2 separate regions of the Homo sapiens genome follow, and region 2 is linked to region 1. Evidence: fine-mapped expression QTL. A gene starts in region 1. The other region holds a variant in brackets. All regions are shown on one strand. Distances are between the middles of the regions. Region 1 holds the start of PLB1 (phospholipase B1). Region 2 has its middle 31 kb from the start of PLB1.

The links. PIP is the estimated chance that this variant, and not a neighbour inherited with it, causes the effect.
Region 2: its variant is fine-mapped to the expression of PLB1 in whole blood (TOPMed, PIP above 0.99).

Annotation. Positions count from the first base shown.
Region 1 is chr2:28,494,963-28,497,876 of GRCh38, reverse strand. It overlaps PLB1 (phospholipase B1), which reads right to left and starts at 1,817. Exons shown (of 58, transcript NM_153021.5): 1 at 1,708-1,817. The coding sequence starts at 1,762.
Region 2 is chr2:28,463,840-28,466,753 of GRCh38, reverse strand. No RefSeq gene overlaps it. Among named protein-coding and RNA genes, the nearest start is that of PLB1, 31 kb to the left of the region's middle. The variant T/C (reference allele first, on the strand shown) is at 1,670.

The DNA.
Region 1 (2,914 bases):
CACGGCGGCAGGCACCTGTAATCCCAGCTACTCAGGAGGCTGAGGCAGGGGAATTGCTTGAACCTGGAGGGCAGAGGTTGCGGTAAGCTGAGACCAAGCCACTGCACTCCAGCCTGGGTGACACAGCCAGACTCTGTCTCAAAAAAAAAAAAAATAGAGAATATACAAATGGACAACGGTGGGACCACATATGATAACAGAACTCTGAGCCACAGTCTGCAATCGGCCAGGCCAGAGAACCAAACTGCAGCCTCTGCAGCAATCAGCCCAGAATGGTCAGGTTTGGTTAATGACTGCCATCTTCTCTATTTTTTGCTCTGCTTCCAACTCAGGACCCCTCAGAGAAAGCCAGATACACTCCCAACTGGATAACTTCAGATGCCGTGCCTCTAGTCAGCTGGTCCCTGATACCAACAACCTCCAACCAGAGCAGATCTGAAGATTTCCCTTTTTTCCACTGTGAAACTTTCCCACTCCCCTGCCTGCCTTTGAATCTTGGCCAAACATAAGTGATGTCTCGCTACAGCGAGCTCTGAATAAGTAGCCTCTGTTTGTCCTCATTTGGGTAGTCTACATTTATTTACACAAAATTAAGAATTTTGCTCATCAAAAGTCCCCATAGGAGGACAAGCTTCAGAGTGGAACAAGATATTTGTCATATATGTAACCTCCAAAGAGCTAGTACACAGCATATATGGAGAACTCCTAAAAAATCAATAGGAAAAAGACTTCAACAGGCACTTCACAAAAGAGAAACTCAAACAATCTCTATGAAAACACTCCTTGGCCTCATCAGTAATCAAAGAAATACAATCATCCTGTGCAGAAGGCATAGCAAGCATCGTCATTCTCCCCCACGGCTCAGAGCGGTAACTGACTTGCCCCAGAGAAGCCTCAAGCATGGGCTCAGACCCTAGGCAGGCCCAGGACTCTGTCCCATGCCTCCTCCACTCTCTCTGGGGAGTCAAGGGCAAGTGCCTTCTCACTCCAGACCCCGTCCTCTCATCTGGAGAAGATGAAAGATCTTTAAGGCCCTTTTCAGTTTAAAAGATTCTGCCTTCCTAAGCAAAGGGAGAGCCAATGATGGGAAGAAGAGGGGCAGAGAGGGATTGTGGCAGAGGCACAATCTACCCACAGTCATTAATGTTGGGGGGAATGGAAAGCCCTGGCTGGTTGCCCACTCAGTTCAATGAAAGCTCAGCACTCTGTTTAGCAGCACTAAAGAATGTAGGCAATCTTTTAGAATTTATCATCTGGAAATCTGTCTTCCTTTGTCCTTCAAAAACAAAACAAAGCTCATAAATGGTAATAGTAATGATCAAAATGTGCATAGTAGTAGTATTTCCATTTTAAGGATGAAAAAAATCAAGGTCCAGGGAGGTGGAAGAACTTGCCCAAAGCCACAAAGCACAAACAAATAGAATCCAGGGGTTTTTTTTGTACCATGGTACTGCTACCGGACTGCACTTCTCTCCTGTCCCAAGATCTGCCTCGCTCCCGGCAGCCTTTGGGACATGTAACCCTGTGTAGGCAGCCTCTGCATCCCATTCCGCAGGAGGCAAACCAGACTTCTTATTCTTGAACTGTACGCTTTGTGCTTTATCTCTTCAAAAGCACACACTCCTCTCACACACCCATTGCCTAAGCAACATGGGACACCAGCGGGGCTAAACCACTGGTTGTCCTCTGAGCAAAAGGCACGCTTACCTTGCCCCAGAAGCAGCAGCAGCTCCAGGAGGAAAATGCCTGGCCGCAGCCCCATGCCAGAATGCTCCAGGTGACTCGGGCCTCTGGAAGAGCTGCTCCAGCAGATGGATGGGCTATCACACCTCCTCCTGCTTTTATGTTCCTCTGTGTTCTGATAGAGCACCTGTCATAAATTTTACTGTGTTCACCTTTGAAAGGGGGTAGTGGCGGGCTGTAAATGATAAATATTAACACTTAGGCGGAAGAGTTCTTAAGGCAGATGAGTCAATGATGGGTAGCATGTTCTAGTCATAGACACTGACAGACCAGGGCCGCATAGCTGCCTCCATACAGCCTTCCATGATGGTGGGTGCCCAGAAATTGCCGGTGTTCGGGTCTGCTGGGAAGAACGTGGGCCTGGGAATCCCAGGTGCTGGTCGGAATTCCAAATCAACCACAGCTGTGGGAACTTGGGTGTATCCCTTAACGTGGCCTCAGCTTTCTCAGTTGTAAGCCAGGAGATCAAAAGTACCTTGTAACAAATGTAAACCATAAACCTACCTCCAAATGTGAAACGTGTTCCCACCGTGTCTCAGAAGCTCTGCTAGGTTCCCTGGTTTGCATGACACAGAGAGGTTTGTTCTGTTCCCCCCATCTCCAAACCCATGGGTGGCCAGTTGTGTTGGGTGGATGTGCACACCATAGATTTGTTGTCTGCATGTTGAATTCAGAGATACAAGCCAGAGAGGGGGAACCAAGTTTGACAAAATCAGCCGTTTCCTTTGGGTAAACTAAGTCAGGAATGCAGGCTGGGTCTAAACTGGGCAGACAAAGCTGGCATTTAAAGCCTGAGTGACAAATACCCTTGAGAGTAGAATTTAAATTTTTTACACAAATATCAAGAAACAATTGCCTTGGTTGATAGGAACAAATATATTTAAATTATCCTTGCTTTCTGGCCATGCTTGTGGGTGTGAGGCTGGGATCCTGACTTCTGAGGTCTAGCTAAGACTCTAGGGCTGGTTCCCATGACCCAACCTCAGATTCTGATCTCCTGGCTGACCCACTTTTCTCATATTTAAAAATCACAGCCAGACACAGTGGCTCACACCTGTGATCCCAGCACTTTGGAAGGCTAAAGAAGGAGGATTATTTGAACCCAGGAGTTTGAAAACCAGCCTGGGCAACTCCATCTCTACAAAAAATAAAAATAAATTAGCCAGGCATG
Region 2 (2,914 bases), 31 kb after region 1:
CCGGGGTAGGGGATCGGATTCCATCCAAAGCCTTCTTTGACACAGTATTCCAGGTTCATTTGCTTTCTCCACTTACCAAAAACAAACAAACAAACAAAAACCCACTAGTGCAAGACTCAGGCCAGCTCCCTCTGGCTCTTCAGAAAATGTGGTTGTTTTCTTGAATTTGGCCCTGGCTACAGCAATGACTTGAGAACGTCTGGAGAGACCTGGGTAAAAGCTGGGTGGGTAAGTTACCAGGCTCCGCCCAGACTCAGTCTCCCAGCACTACGGGCGCAGAACTGGGCTCTGAAGGCAGATGTGAGTGTCATGGTGTCTTCAGTGAGCCTGGGCTGTCAGCTCATGAAAAATTTAAAAAAGATTTTGAATTAGTTGGCATTTTTTAATGGGATGATTTTATATTTTAAAATGCAGCTTTCTGGCATATTTTGAAAATATGAGGCTGGGTGCCGTGGGTCACGCCTGCCACCCCAGCACTTTGGCAGGCAGAGACAGGAGGATTGCTGGAGTCTAGGAGTTCCAGATCAGCCTGGGCAACAAAGCAAGGCCCTGTATCTGGCCAAAAGGAAAGAAAGAAAGAGAGAGACAGAGAGAGAGAGAGAGGAAGGGAGGGAGGGAGGGAGAGAGGGAGGGAGGGAAGGAAGGAAGGAAGGAAGGAAGGAAGGAAGGAAGGAAGGAAGGAAGGAAGGAAGGAAGGAAGGAAAAGAAAGAAAGAGAGAGAAAGAAAGAAGAAAGAAAGGAAAGAAACTACCTTGCTAAGTAGTGAGCCCTCTGTCACTGGAGAAATGCAAGCAGAGACTGGAGATCATTGAACTACACCAAAGGGATAACTGTATCAAACACTTCTTAAGTCTCTTTCACCTGTGATAGTCTATGATTCAAATAGTTTAACTTCAAGGGCTCCCAGGGGGACTGAGTGGGGAAAGATGGAATGTGAGGTGCAGTGGATGAGATAAGGAGAGAACAAAGGAATGAAGTGGTGAGCTCAGCACTGTAGCTCTCAGTGTGCAGAAAAGTCAGTCAGGTTTGAGGTCAGGTCAAGGGAAACCAACAGTACATTTACATAAATGTGCTCTAAAGTTCACATTTGCTAATCTATGGGAACAGATAGATACACCGAGATAATCAACTCAGTTTGAGGCTTCTTGGAATCTTTATGCTGCTCATCACCCTGAAAGAACGAGACAGACGAGAGCAAAGTCATCTATGTGGTTACAGTGGTATTTTCCCAACTACAGGTTAGAAGTCATGAAATCAGTTTCGTTGGTTGTAACTAGCATTAAAAAAAATGGAAAATACCAGAGCGCATCACAAGTGATTAAATGACCAAATGTTTCATTAAAGTTTTGTTTCAATACTATGTAAGTCTATATATCATATATGTATGTGCACCAAATTACGATGTAAAATTGGTGAAAACGAGTTTGAAAGCCACTAGGTCAGAGACAGAGTGGGGGCAACCCTGCTCTGTGAGCCAAATCCTGTCTCAGATTAATTTTATCTGGCCAGGGGTGGAGCAAGATGGCAACCAAGTGCAATCCTGATGGGAGCAAGGTGACAACCAGGCCTGGGACCAAGCTCTGATGGGCTTCATTCCTGAGTCGAAGAGGCCACAGCAGAGTGCACAGGCAGATTCCAGACTTTCCTCGGGAAGCTGCTATCCGTTTTC[T/C]CAAATGAGGTCTGTGTGTCCCACCATTCGCAGACATACCTCCCCACCGTGACCACCACCATCCTGACACTTGCATATTGGCCACACTCCTCACCCTAGCCCAGGAGGAAGCCAGGAACTTCTGCATGCATCATGTCTTTGGAGTCCACCCCATGGCCAGTCCTGTTCCCTCCATCCCTCCATCTCAGCCCCTTAGTGCCTCTTCCATAAGATCGCCTGGGGTATGGCAATGAATTAGTGGCATAGTCTGTATCCCCTGTCTCCATATTCCTGAATTGCTTAACTTATTGAATAGGTTTCTTTAATATCATCTGCAGACTGAAGGAACTGACAAAAAATGATGGTGTGGATTTGACAGTTGCTATGAATGAGCTGCCTACAATTCTATCTAAGGCTGGCTCTCCATTGGAGCACAGGATTCTGTACTCTCACTTTCTTTTTTTTCCTTTAAATTAGAGATGGGGTCTCTCTGTGTTGCCCAGGCTGGTCTTGAACTCCTGAGCTCAAATGATCCTCCCACCTTGGCCTCCCAAAGTGCTGGGATCACAGGTGTGAGCCTCCACACCCGGCCCAACTCTCACTTTCCTGACACATCAATGATCCCCTCTCAATTATGCCCTCTGGCATACCAACATGATATAATTTTTCCCAATGTCGAAAATCAAAACATAACTTCTCTTGACCTCATAGCCCCCTCCAGCTTCAATCCTATTTTTCTATTCTCTTGGCAGTTAAAATTTCTTGAAAGCTTTCTCCAAACTTATGGATTCAAGTCTTCGTTTCAGTGAGTTCTGAGTCTTCCACTGGAACAAAACTGTTGTCAGTTCACCAAGGACCTTCATGTTGCTAAACCCAGTAGTGAACTTTTCATCTTTATCTTACTTAAGCCATTAACAGCATTTGATACCTTTGGTCACTCTGTCTTTTTTTGAAATACTTTCTTCATTTTGACTTCAAGACAACGCTCTTGTGGTTTTCCTCTTTCGACATTGCCCACTCTTTCTCATCTGCATTCTTACTTCTTCCTCATCATGCTGGTGTGTAAACACTGGAGTGCACTGATCTGGGTTCTGGACCTGTTTCTCTTATGCATCTACACTCACGGCCTAGGTGATTTTACCCACACACATGACTCTTCATACCTTCTATACCCTGTCAAATGTTAAATGATTTATCTCCAGAGCTCCGGGTGCATACATCCAACTGGCTAGTGCACATCTTCACTTGCATATCTTGTGACCATCT